Homo sapiens: one gene and its partner. The protein of the gene in region 1 interacts with the protein of each later gene in a biochemical or structural test. Each region holds a gene or a part of one and is shown in the gene's direction. Other genes may lie near its edges.

Region 1 (6,227 bases):
TTCGGCTACCCTTTCCACGGTCATTGCCACCGTGGCTTCCTCGCCAGCAGGCTACAAAACGGCCTCCCCACCTGGGCCCCCACCGTACGGAAAGAGAGCCCCGTCCCCGGGGGCCTACAAGACAGCCACCCCACCCGGATACAAACCCGGGTCGCCTCCCTCCTTCCGAACGGGGACCCCACCGGGCTATCGAGGAACCTCGCCACCTGCAGGCCCAGGGACCTTCAAGCCGGGCTCGCCCACCGTGGGACCTGGGCCCCTGCCACCTGCGGGGCCCTCAGGCCTGCCATCGCTGCCACCACCACCTGCGGCCCCTGCCTCAGGGCCGCCCCTGAGCGCCACGCAGATCAAACAGGAGCCGGCTGAGGAGTATGAGACCCCCGAGAGCCCGGTGCCCCCAGCCCGCAGCCCCTCGCCCCCTCCCAAGGTGGTAGATGTACCCAGCCATGCCAGTCAGTCTGCCAGGTGAGCGGCCAGGTGGGGCGGAGGTGGGCCTGGAAAGGGGACGACGACAAGGCGGCGACGAGAGAGGGAGTAGCAGGGAGGGGCCTTGCGCTGGTGTAGTGTTTTAGAAAAGCACGCCCCTCTCCTCCGTCCAGGCCTAGTGGCCAGTGAGGCCCGCAGCAGCTCACAGCCTGCAGGGGTGGTTTTGAGGCGGGGGCTACAAGCACTCGCCGGGGCCGCGGCGCTGCGGGCTCCATCGGGCAGCTCGCACCGCCTGAGCGCCCGCTGCTTCCACGCCCGGCAGGTTCAACAAACACCTGGATCGCGGCTTCAACTCGTGCGCGCGCAGCGACCTGTACTTCGTGCCACTGGAGGGCTCCAAGCTGGCCAAGAAGCGGGCCGACCTGGTGGAGAAGGTGCGGCGCGAGGCCGAGCAGCGCGCGCGCGAAGAAAAGGAGCGCGAGCGCGAGCGGGAACGCGAGAAAGAGCGCGAGCGCGAGAAGGAGCGCGAGCTTGAACGCAGCGTGGTGAGTGCGTCACTGCCTGCGCCACCGCCTTCTTTCCCTCTTTCCTTCCTTCCCTCTGCGCTGCGCTGCGCTACGCTACGCTGCGGGGCTGTGGCTGGGTGGGCGGGCGAGTCACGTCGCCACCTGTCGGAGGGGAGGTACCACTGCAGCCCAGGAAATGGAGCCCAAAAGGTTTTCAGCGAGAGCCATCTGCATTCCTGGGTTGGGAAAAGGCATGCTCAGATGGGACTACCTGTGGATCCCAAGAAGGGCAAATATTCGGGAGCGGGGGCCGCAGTTAAGTTCCAGGTGGGCAGAGTTTCAATGAGTTGAGGCATTTTGGCATTCGGCTGTCGAAACAAATGGGCAGCTTAAAACCAGCCACCTCTTTTCATAACTGCCGCTTTGACTCCACTTTTCCCTGTATCCCACAGAAGTTGGCTCAGGAGGGCCGTGCTCCGGTGGAATGCCCATCTCTGGGCCCAGTGCCCCATCGCCCTCCATTTGAACCGGGCAGTGCGGTGGCTACAGTGCCCCCCTACCTGGGTCCTGACACTCCAGCCTTGCGCACTCTCAGTGAATATGCCCGGCCTCATGTCATGTCTCCTGGCAATCGCAACCATCCATTCTACGTGCCCCTGGGGGCAGTGGACCCGGGGCTCCTGGGTTACAATGTCCCGGCCCTGTACAGCAGTGATCCAGCTGCCCGGGAGAGGGAACGGGAAGCCCGTGAACGAGACCTCCGTGACCGCCTCAAGCCTGGCTTTGAGGTGAAGCCTAGTGAGCTGGAACCCCTACATGGGGTCCCTGGGCCGGGCTTGGATCCCTTTCCCCGACATGGGGGCCTGGCTCTGCAGCCTGGCCCACCTGGCCTGCACCCTTTCCCCTTTCATCCGAGCCTGGGGCCCCTGGAGCGAGAACGTCTAGCGCTGGCAGCTGGGCCAGCCCTGCGGCCTGACATGTCCTATGCTGAGCGGCTGGCAGCTGAGAGGCAGCACGCAGAAAGGGTGGCGGCCCTGGGCAATGACCCACTGGCCCGGCTGCAGATGCTCAATGTGACTCCCCATCACCACCAGCACTCCCACATCCACTCGCACCTGCACCTGCACCAGCAAGATGCTATCCATGCAGGTGAGACCCCTCCTTCCTTGCCCTGGCCCTTTGGGGCCACCTTCCCCCTATCATGACTGGGCTCTTTCATTCCTATGGCCAAGACTTTCCTCCCCTGGCCTGGCATGAACCTTTCCTGAGATTGCTGCCCTGAACTTTGCCTCCCTGACGTTCTCTCAGCCTTGTCTTCTCATGGCCTTCCCTGGCCACAAAGCCTGTATGCCCCACAGCCCAGTTCTCTCCATAGTCTAGTATCCTTCCCATGACAGAGGCCCACACGGGAGCTTTTGAAGGACACTTTTCTATTCTCACAGCCCCATTCTCCCAAGCCCTTCACAAACCTGTCTTCTTATTTATTTTTTTGAGACATGGTCTGGCTCTGCCACCCAGGCTGGAGTGTAGTGGCGCAATCACAGCTCACTGCAGCCTCGACTTCCCGGTCTCAAGTGATCCTCCTACCTCAGCCTCTGGAGTAGCTGGGATTACAGGCGTGTGTCACCATACCTGGCTACTTTTTGTATTTTTGGTAGAGACGGGGTTTCGCCATGTTGGCCATGGCTGGTCTCAAATTCCTGAGCTCAAAGCGATCCACCCACCTCGGCCTCCCAAAGTCCTGAGATTACAGGCGTGAGCCACCGTGCCCAACCCACAAACCTATCTTCTGATTTCTCTGGATTCAACTCATTTTTTGCCATTTTCTCCTCTTCTCCCTCTGCGAGGTCTTTCATGTTTTTCCCCATCTCTAGATCTGTAACTTTCTAGAAAGGGCCCTGTAGCTTTGGGTTTGGGTGTCATAGGCGATAATGAGCTTTACTTACTATCCTTTCACCATTTTTTGGTTTTTGAGACGGAGTCTCGCCCTGTCACCAAGCTGGAGTGCAGTGGCGCGATCTCGGCTTACTGCAACCTCCGCCTCTGGGGTTCAAGTGATTCTTCTGCCTCAGCAGGCACTGCCTGCCCGAGTAGCTGGGACTGCAGGCGTGTGCCACCAAGTACAGCTAATTTTTGTATTTTTAGTAGACACGGGGTTTCACCATGTTGGCCAGGATAGTCTTGATCTCTTGACCTTGTGATCCACCCGCCTTGGCCTCCCAAAGTGCTGGAATTACAAGCGTGAGCCACCGCACCCGGCTTCCTTTTTTTCTTTTGCCCAGACTGGAGTGCAGTGGCGCGATCTCGGCTCACTGCAGCTTCCACCTCCCAGGTTCAAGCGATTCTCCTGCCTCAGCCTCCCGAGGAGCTGGGACTATAGGCGTGTGCCACCCTGCCTGGCTAATTTTTTTGTATTTTTTGTAGAAACAGGGTTTCACCATCTTGGCCAGGCTGGTCTTGAACTCCTCACCTCAGGTGAGCTGCCTGCCTCAGCCTCCCAAAGTGCTGAGATTATAGGCTTGAGCCACTGTGCCCGGCCTCTTCTTGTCTTATTTTCTAAACTTCTATCATCTTCCACCTTCTTCACGCAGTCTACCTCTCTCTGTCCTTCCCCTCAGACCCTTCTGATGACTGTAATCTCCTGTCCTGTGTCATCCATATGTCCCTCCTCCAGTAGGGCTCAGCCTGTCCACCCCTGCCAGGCCTCTAGTTCTTCCACTCTGCCTTTGTTCCACTTTGGACCTCCTTGTGTTTGTCTGACTCAGTTCCCAGGCTTGGATCCCTTCACCCAAATGCATGGTTTGCCCCAAACCTGCCTTCTGGTGACACCTTCCTCTTCTCTGCCCTCCAGCCTCTGCCTCGGTGCACCCTCTCATTGACCCCCTGGCCTCAGGGTCTCACCTTACCCGGATCCCCTACCCAGCTGGAACTCTCCCTAACCCCCTGCTTCCTCACCCTCTGCACGAGAACGAAGTTCTTCGTCACCAGCTCTTTGGTAAGGATGGAAGTTGGGGTAGGCAGCTCCAATGAGAAAAGGGCAGAAAGGAGGTATTTGGGTGGGGGGATGGGCCTAGTTGGGCTTGGGGAGGGATGAGGAGGTGCCTAGAGGAGCTGGGCATGGGAATAGGAGAGCTGGAGCTCTGCCCAAGAGAAGCACGAGTTTTAGTGTCAGCCTAAGAGGTTCGAATCCCAATTCCACCCTACCACTGGCAACTTACAGAACTGGGTGTGTTACCTCACTTTTTAGTTCATTACCTTTGTATGTAAAGGAGCTGGCTATCCCCTGGTCCAGAGCAGGTACTTGTTATCCGTTGGTCATATGCCCCTTGCCCTTCCTGCTCACAGCTGCCCCTTACCGGGACCTGCCGGCCTCCCTTTCTGCCCCGATGTCAGCAGCTCATCAGCTGCAGGCCATGCACGCACAGTCAGCTGAGCTGCAGCGCTTGGCGCTGGAACAGCAGCAGTGGCTGCATGCCCATCACCCGCTGCACAGTGTGCCGCTGCCTGCCCAGGAGGACTACTACAGGTACCCTAGGGTGCCCCAGCCCAGGGGACATGGGCTCAGCGAGCCTGGGAGGAGCTGTGGGCATGGTACGGCTGGGCACCGTGCTCCTGGGGGAGGGAACCCCTCCTCTCCCAACCCCTTCGGTAAGAGGGGGCAAGGTCAGAGTTGGTCTCAAGTCTCTTACCTCTCTGCTATGCACTGCCCCTTCCCTAGTCACCTGAAGAAGGAAAGCGACAAGCCACTGTAGAACCTGCGATCAAGAGAGCACCATGGCTCCTACATTGGACCTTGGAGCACCCCCACCCTCCCCCCACCGTGCCCTTGGCCTGCCACCCAGAGCCAAGAGGGTGCTGCTCAGTTGCAGGGCCTCCGCAGCTGGACAGAGAGTGGGGGAGGGAGGGACAGACAGAAGGCCAAGGCCCGATGTGGTGTGCAGAGGTGGGGAGGTGGCGAGGATGGGGACAGAAAGCGCACAGAATCTTGGACCAGGTCTCTCTTCCTTGTCCCCCCTGCTTTTCTCCTCCCCCATGCCCAACCCCTGTGGCCGCCGCCCCTCCCCTGCCCCGTTGGTGTGATTATTTCATCTGTTAGATGTGGCTGTTTTGCGTAGCATCGTGTGCCACCCCTGCCCCTCCCCGATCCCTGTGTGCGCGCCCCCTCTGCAATGTATGCCCCTTGCCCCTTCCCCACACTAATAATTTATATATATAAATATCTATATGACGCTCTTAAAAAAACATCCCAACCAAAACCAACCAAACAAAAACATCCTCACAACTCCCCAGGAACATGGCTGTGACTATTCTTTGCGGGATATGGGGGTGAGGCTGGGTCTCAGTGCAGCGGTGCTTAGAGAGAACTGCAGCCAGGGCCTGGCAGGGAAGCGGGAAGAGACCAGACCTTCTTAAGGAACGGGGTGTGGGGGCTGGGAAGAATTGGAGAGGGGATCCCTGAAGAGCCCAGAGCCTTGACTCAGCTGGAGGCGGTACCATGGGTGCTGGTGCCCCCTCCTGCCCCAAGGCTGGGCAGGACCGCTGCGCGCCAGTGGAGGCCTCGGTCTGGGCTCTGTGGCTTATGCCTGTGAGACGCGGGTGGATTGCTTGAGCCCAGGAGTTGGAAACCAGCTTGGGCAACATAGAGAAACCCCATCTTAAGACAAAATCAGCTGGGGGTTGTGGTGCACTTGTGGTCCCAGCTACTCAGGAGGCTGAGGTGGGAGGATCACTTGGGGGTCGAGGCTACAGTGAGTCATGATCGCACCACTGCACTCTAGCCTGGGTGACAGAGCAAGGCCCTATCTCAAAACAAACAAACAAAAGACACCCCAACCAACCAAACACTAGAGGCCTGGGACAGGCCCACCTCTGACGTGGTCAGTTCTAGGAATCTATTCAGACGGGTCTCACTGCTAGGAGCCACCAGAGTCCTCCGGAACAAGGGCTTCAGAGTCCTGAAACCTTTCCGTGGAATACTTTAAGAAACGGTTATGAGGCCAGGCGCGACGGCTCACGCTGGTAATCCCAGGACTTTGGGAGGCCGAGGCGGGCGGATCACGAGGTCAGGAGTTCCAGACCAGCTTGGCCAACATGGCAAAACCCTGTCTCTACTAAAAACAAAACATTAGCTGGGCATGGTGGCGCGCGCCTGTCGTCCCAGCGACTTGGGAGGTTGAGGCAGGAGAATCGCTTGAACCCGGGAGGTGGAGGTTATGGTGAGCCAAGATCCCCCCCAGCTGCACTCCAGCTTGGCGACAGAGCAAGACTCCGTCTCAAAAACAAAAAACAAAGCCG
Region 2 (7,650 bases), on another chromosome or scaffold:
AACAAAACAAAACAAACACAAGAAAAGCCAGTCTGACAACACTGGTTTATTCAAAAGTCTCCTGGAAGAACCTGGGAGGAAGGAGGTGGGGGTGGGGTGTAAATGGAGTGTGGAGATGTTGGAATGGAAGGAAATACTTTAATTTATCAAAATGGTTTGGGTTAAATATGTGGTAGAGTCGGGCCTAAGCCTTCATCTTGGGCCAGTAGGGTTTCTCAGAAAGGTTTAAGGTTTGGGTTTAAGTGTTGAAGCTCGGGTTAGATTAGATTATTTGATTATTACAAACCCTAAACTTTGGTTTTAGTTAGACTTCATCTGTGCTGCAGACGCTGTAATTTGTTTTGTATTGGAGGAACTCCAATCTTCTCCAGCTTCACTAGGTCTCATTTTTAAATGTCCCATTCTTTTAAGAACTACCTATATATTATTTCCAAACTAATATAACATATGGGGTAGGCATGGGCTTCCAAAGGCTGAGATGTAGATGACACCCCAGGGACACAGGAAGTGCCCAAGAGTGATCTGATCCTTTGAGAAATCACTCTTTTAGAAGAAGAAAAGTTAAAAAACAGTATGGTGCTGTATTCTTATCAATGGGGCATACACAAATGTAAAATCTGTATATTCAAAAATATAAAACAAATCTCAAAGCTAAAATGGAGGCTAGGTAGATATCAGATCCCTAATTTGCCCATTTTATTTGTTAAAGTACAGCTTTGATTTGAATACAAATTGACTTAGGGAGAGCTAAGGACTAGTACAGATTGCATTCCTCTGGTTTATATGTCCCAATAAAGGGTGGAAACTGCTGTTTATTACTATTTGCAGCCTCAAATCTAGTTCATTTATGGTAGTGAAACAGCTAATTGGCAATTTTTTTATGGACTAAATATATTGAAAGCTCAAACATGAGTCAATAGCCATTATTTAAAATATGTGACATAAATATTTTTATTGATCCACGAAGTCATCACTGAATATTTACATCAGAAGCTGTCTTCTGCTAGCACTCATTCACTTTACATGTCCATATGACTCAGTTAAGACACAACCTTAAATTACAATTGTCACGTGGAAATTACAATCCCAGTAGTACTGGATCTTTAAAACTTGGGATCATGATGCTTTCAGTTTACAGTAACCTTTGACTTTCAAATGTCCATATTGTAGCTTCTAAAAACAATGAAGGTAACAATAAAAAATTAAAAATTAAATGTACTCTAAAGGCTTAATATATGTAAATACATTAGCTTAAATATGTTAGCTGTTATAGTAAAATGTTAAACTTGTTATTTCATATTAACCTCTCTTATCCTATGAGCTGAGTCTCATTAACTTGGTTGCTGGCATTTGTCCTACAATAAATTCTAAAATATTTCTGTGTTTGTGGATTGTAGATGTAGCATTCAGAGGATTCATGATGCCCCCTTCCCCACCAGTGGGGTTAAAGATATGGGGGAAGAGGAATTCTGACCCTTCCACAGTTTAAATACGTGTACTGGGACTGTTTAACAGTTAATCTTCCTAGTACATTTAACTTTCATAAGTCGATTTTTTAAAAGATGAGGCTGGCCCGAGGTGTTACTATGTTTAGCTGGGGCCTTATTTTAATATTAAGTTTTTCTTTTTTGGAGTCACATAACACCAGGTGGAAAAGATTTGTTACTAATTCCAGGGAAGAACCATTCACATAGTGTTGGTTAAATGGTCGCCTGCGTTCACACTTCAGTGCCTGTAGACCAGAGCCCTGGAAACAAAAGGGTTACTTGTTTCCCCACCATCGCCTTTACCCGCAGATCGATTTTTCTTATTTAATCAGCGAGTAAAAAGAGAGACACAGGGAAGAAAAAAAAAAAAAACTGCAGGAAGGGCAAAGTGGTGGGGGGAGGGTTGAAAGCCAGAAGCTGCAATACAGAAAATCAGTCTTGGGAGTTGGGCTGCGAAGTCCTTGGAACAAGGAAGGGAAGCCGGCAAAATGCTCGCAGTCAGTTCCACACAGCCAGCCTCCCTTTTCTCTTCGCTACGCGCTAGCGGCTCGTTTGGCTTCTCTCTGCCACCGAGCGATCACATACATTATTTCCCCCAAGATAACACAATCAAACTTGTATTTACCGACATCCTCTCCTCGCAGCCTGTTTGAGATTTGTTTTAATAAATAAGTGTTTTATGTGAATGATGTAGTAATTGAAAGGGGCGCACCATTTTTTTGCCTTCTTACTGCGGGAGGTTCCTCAACCCCAATCTGGTTGGAAAATAAAACGCTTTGTCTCCACAACCACCCCCCACAGCACCCCCACCCGCTCTCAGTGTGTGTTTTATACGTGTGTATATCTCAACCCCCTACAGTAGCCAAGAGAAAGCAGCTAGCCAATGAGAGAGCCCAGTTTCATAAAAGCTGCTCTCTGATTGGCCCGATGCGAAAGGGCACTGGGAACAAAGAAAAGTCCCTTTCAGGTATAGAGGCTGAGAGCTTCTTTTGCTCCACTCCCCCTGTGTGTGTGTTGTGTTTCAGTCCTGATTTAGTGTTGCAGAACAAGCTTGTTGTGTGTGTGCACCAGGGGGATTTTTGTTTTGCTTTTTTTAAATTTTAATTTTTGCTTTTATAAAAAATACACAGGACGGTCTGTGACATTTGATGGTCCATCTTCTTTAATAATAAATTTGTTGAAGAGATTATAATTTCCAAAATAAAGCGGCTGCAACCAAACACATTCAATGCAGTTAGAAGGAAAAGGTCAACTCGATCCAATACAGACCGTAAGTACGGTTGCGTGGTGTGTCTCTATATAGCACTTAGCGGGGACTTCATGCAGGGGAATGTGCGAGTTTTATGCATAGAAATGAGGAACTAGTTACAGGGTTTGGCTTTTGCATTTAGAACAACAACCCAAGAAGGGTGAATTTTATTCAGTGGAGGGTGAAGCATTTGTAACTTCACACAAATTAAGCTTGACTGGGCACTCGGGGTAACTTAGAGGAAATTAGCTTTTGGGCTCTAACCCAAAGGAGAATAAAAGTGACACAGTTGCATATCCTGGTCTGCAGTGTCAATTCTCTAGCTCACCTTACTCCCTCCCTCTTCTGTCCTAGCTGGGCAGACCCCCCTCCCAAAGCGATCCAGGAAAATGGGGGCAAGGGCAGAACAAGCCGATTTCTGTCTCCTGTCAGATCCCAGTGCCCGATAATTTAATATTAAACAAGGGAATAGTCACTCATTACATGTAATGGTTATAATTACCATTCGCCATCTCCTTAAAAAAGCAAGCAACAAAAATACCATTAAGAGAAAAAATAAAAGCCCCACCCAACCCAAACAAACCCACAAATAGTAACAATGGTGTATTTATTACAGGACCAGGCTGGGGAGCAAGCAAAAGGTTTTTCTTTGTTTAATACATGAAGTGGGGGTCCCTAAAATCCAAGTAGCTCGGAGATACCCTTCTCCCTCCCCCAGGCGTCCCCGTCCCTGGCCCCTTGGGAAAGCCGACAAATTGGAGATAAGTTGAGGAAAGGTTTATAAAGTGTTTCTTTAAAACATCTGCTTTGCTCTTGTGCTCATTACATTTCGCTCCTTCCGAACTTCGGAGATCCTAGATCTCCGAGAAATGTTTCACATTCATAACTTGTAGCTTCGCCCACTGCGGGGGGGCGGGGGGAGGAGGTTGGGGGAGTGTGTGCAGGGGGAGGGGAGAGACTTTCAGCTTTTTTTTTTTTAAAGACCAGATCAGTATTTTCTTGATACGCTTGTCACCATTTTTGTTCTCACGACAACCAATTGAGCCCTTGATCCTCACGTGATGTGAAAGGCTTGCACTGTAACAAAATCGCTCCTTTTAGATGGTTGGTTGTTACTAACTCGCCCATCCCCCTCTCCCAGCCCCGACATTTCCAGCAAAGCGACTCTCCACTTCCAATCCATCAACAATTCATTACTGCTTTTAGCTTCCAAACGCCAGCTAATTAAAAATACTAAGCCAAGCTCCGGGGCCATCTGACTAAACACAGGAGGGGCTGGGCGAAGGGAGAGGAGAGAAAAAATAAATAAAAGGGAGACACACCGTTTGCTGCGAGTATAAGAGGGAAAAACTCCCGAAAAGGGTCGCCTTAAAAAAAAAAAAAAAGAAAACAAAAACCTTATTTTGACTCTAATTATCGAATTACCACATGACTGGCTGACCTGAGCGACAGAGGATTCCACTCCCCTCGGGAGCTATACTAGGAACTCAGTTCCTTTTTCTTAAAACAACATAAGACAGGAAAACATCACATCCTTTAGGTTTCGAAGACTGAGCCCATTTTAAACGCCGTTATTTTCCCCACCCCACCGCCCCAAGCCCCCCGCCCCCCGCCCCGAGCGAATGCTGTTATAACTGGTTTATCAGCTCACTGAATCATCTGCTGTCTCCTCCTCCACACCTTTCTTTTTCTCCTCTTGCCCAGTTTCTCATCCCACCCTTTCTTCTCCTCCTCCTCCCTCTACTCCCCCCCTCCTTTTCTCTTAAGTTAGTTCAAGAAATCAAATCTGTCAGGACGGGCGGAAAAATGCCACTTCCCGACTAACAGGCGGAATCCAGCCCAGATTTTCAGTCCTTTCTTCTTATTCTTTCTTCCCTTTCACTAATTTATCCCGATGTTAGCACATTCTGTCTCGTTACTAGCGGACGCCTGTAGGTTTGCTACATGGGATCATTACTGATCACGGTGACTCTGAAGTCTGGAACTGAAGGCGGAATGAGAAGTTGGGAAAACTTTTTTCTCTAAACTCTCTGTTTTTTAAAAAACTATTATTCTCGATGCTTGTTAAGAGGAAAAAAAAACCTTTGGTGCTTCTGTTGTGAATGTGAAACATTATTTTCCAGCTGTACAGTGACACATTTTTTTTAAGGAGAAAAGGACTGATTCGTTTGCCAAAAGGGGGGTGGGGAGGTGGAATAATGTTATCGAGTGATTATTCTGGCTGAGATGTGTTATTTGGTTTCTTCCTTCTTGATCATTTGGTGTTTAAGTAAAATGAGGCACAGGCTTGTTTGCCGAGTGGAGTGGGAAAGGCATTTTGATTTGCTGGCCTAATTAAAAAATGATAAAGGATTAAAAGGTAAGCAATGTCTGTGTGTGTGTATGTGTGTGTGTATGTATATTTATTTATTTTTTTCTTGACAATCAACTGTTAAAAAGGGGCTGATCCCTTTAAAAACCGTTTTAACTGCTCTTTGTCAAACACACTCATTTGCGGTCATTGAGGCCACCTTGGCGCAGATCACTTAAAGTGTATGTCTTAATCAGTTTTCTGTACAGTCAGTAGCACCGTATTTAAGAGAGTGAGCAATTCTCTGACCTAGGAATATGGTAGAATTGTTTAAATGTATTTTTTTCTCAAAAGGCAGGTATTTAACTTTTTATATAACACTGTCTTTTCTAGAGAGAAATGCTCTTAAAAGACATGCATATTTCAAAAAAGAAATTGTAGAAGCTGTTTGGGAAAAGAGGATAGGAGGGAGGTATGTGTGTGTGTTGGGGGCAGTTATTGGTTGTTTTTTCTGTTCCTTACTAGGAACAAAAAACAGATTGCCCAGACAATTTGTAAAAAGAAGTACTGAAACCTAAATTAGAAATAAGGAAAATTTAGCAACATTCTATTCTGAAAACTAGCCTCAGAACTTCCAGGGTCTGGTCTTCTAAATTGCAAGATCTAGGACATGTTTAGGGATGTTTAAAGCTGTGTTCTTCCTTCTTGTCTGAGTGTTCAGGCTGTGTTTCTGGGGTTGAGATATCACATGTGCCAGACTGAAATCCTAAACTTTAAAAAAGAACACAAAAACCTTTCTGGACTTGAATCAGATCCTTAAGATAATTTAATGCTTTTAAAAAGGTGATTATCCTTGTGTTGTTGATAAAGGGATTTTCTTTTTAGCTACCGTAAGATGCTTACTGTCATAGGTTTATTTTTCGGGTTTGGTTATTTTCCTTTAAACCTGATATTGGACTGTGAGGACAATACATGAGCCACCTTACTCTCCATCCTTCCCTGTCCCCTTTACTGATTCCCCAATACTAATCGTTTTTTATTCTGGTAACACCCAGACAAGAAATATTCGACTTTTCCCCCCCCCTTCACAGGAAAAGGTGGACCTGGACTGAGGGTGTAAAATCCCTGGACACATTCGTGGGGCAGGAAAAAGAAGAGGAAGATTAGAAGATTTTTTTTTTCTTTGAGAGAAAGCCCAGCGGAGATAAACGAATGTCCCCTCATCTCCAAAGAAAAGTTCATCGGATTTTTATTCTAGAGAGCTCATCTTCAGGATGTCAGTGAACATTTCTACTGCAGGAAAAGGTGTGGATCCAAATACAGTTGATACTTATGACAGTGGCGATGATTGGGAAATCGGGGTTGGAAATTTAATAATTGATTTGGACGCTGATTTGGAGAAGGACAGACAGAAATTTGAGATGAATAATTCCACCACCACCACTAGTAGCAGCAACTCCAAGGATTGTGGAGGTCCGGCCTCCAGTGGGGCTGGTGCTACCGCAGCCTTAGCTGATGGCCTAAAATTTGCTTCTGTTCAGGCCTCTGCTCCCCAGGGGAATTCACACAAAGAGACCAGCAAATCAAAAGTGAAAAGGAGTAAAACTTCTAAGGATGCTAATAAATCTCTGCCTTCTGCTGCCTTGTATGGGATTCCCGAGATCAGCAGCACTGGCAAGAGGCAGGAAGTCCAAGGGCGCCCTGGAGAGGCAACTGGCATGAATTCAGCGCTGGGTCAAAGTGTGAGCAGCGGCGGCAGCGGCAACCCAAACAGCAATAGTACCAGCACCAGCACCTCTGCCGCCACCGCGGGGGCAGGCTCCTGTGGGAAAAGCAAAGAGGAGAAGCCAGGTAAAAGCCAGAGCAGCCGAGGCGCCAAGCGGGATAAGGATGCGGGGAAATCCAGGAAGGACAAGCACGACCTGCTTCAGGGCCACCAGAATGGCAGTGGCAGCCAGGCCCCTTCCGGGGGGCACCTCTATGGCTTTGGGGCCAAGAGCAATGGAGGTGGCGCGAGCCCCTTCCACTGCGGGGGCACTGGGAGTGGCAGCGTCGCCGCTGCAGGGGAAGTTAGCAAAAGTGCCCCGGATTCAGGGCTCATGGGAAACTCTATGTTGGTAAAGAAGGAAGAGGAGGAGGAGGAGAGCCACAGGCGAATCAAGAAACTGAAAACTGAGAAGGTAGGATAAAGTCGCCTTCCTAGATGTCCTACTCTCCTCTGTGTGCATTTGTGTGGGTGTGTGGGGGTGTGCCTCTGTGTGCCTTACACTTTATGCTTTCTGGTTCTTTGTGAGATTTCTATGATATGCATCCTTTATATTAAAATTTGATATGGGGGAGCCTACTTGGGTGCAGTGTTTGGCTCTTGCTTCTGCTGTCCTTGCTGCTGCTGCTGCTGCTGCTGCTGCTTGTGATGCTAGTGTTTGGGTTCCCAGGTGGGAGGGCCTGAGTGTTCTAAGTACCTTTTGCCCTGTAGATCGGTTCCTCACTAGTCAGCAGGTTGCCGTGTGCTTTTAATAGAAAACCTGCTCATGCACCCTCTTGACTCTTGTCCTGCTTTCTTCCTTAAGGGGAACAGTTTTCTATTTTAATTTATTCATCCTAGTATTGCGGGTAATGTGTCC

What was found. Proteins that work in one complex are often made in the same cells at the same time.
Region 2: the proteins of ATN1 (region 1) and ZNF608 form a complex in vitro, tested with the Homo sapiens proteins (one study listed by IntAct).

What each region holds. Positions count from the first base shown.
Region 1 is NC_000012.12:6,937,097-6,943,323, forward strand, and holds the end of ATN1 (atrophin-1), read left to right. Parts: coding exon 1-465; intron 466-748; coding exon 749-971; intron 972-1,384; coding exon 1,385-2,081; intron 2,082-3,783; coding exon 3,784-3,927; intron 3,928-4,277; coding exon 4,278-4,458; intron 4,459-4,650; coding exon 4,651-4,684; 3' UTR 4,685-5,225; downstream 5,226-6,227. UniProt on the Homo sapiens protein: Transcriptional corepressor. Recruits NR2E1 to repress transcription. Promotes vascular smooth cell (VSMC) migration and orientation. Corepressor of MTG8 transcriptional repression.
Region 2 is NC_000005.10:124,743,640-124,751,289, reverse strand, and holds the start of ZNF608 (zinc finger protein 608), read left to right. Parts: upstream 1-4,650; 5' UTR 4,651-5,095; exon of another isoform or gene 5,096-6,117; 5' UTR 6,118-6,300; coding exon 6,301-7,206; intron 7,207-7,650. UniProt on the Homo sapiens protein: Transcription factor, which represses ZNF609 transcription.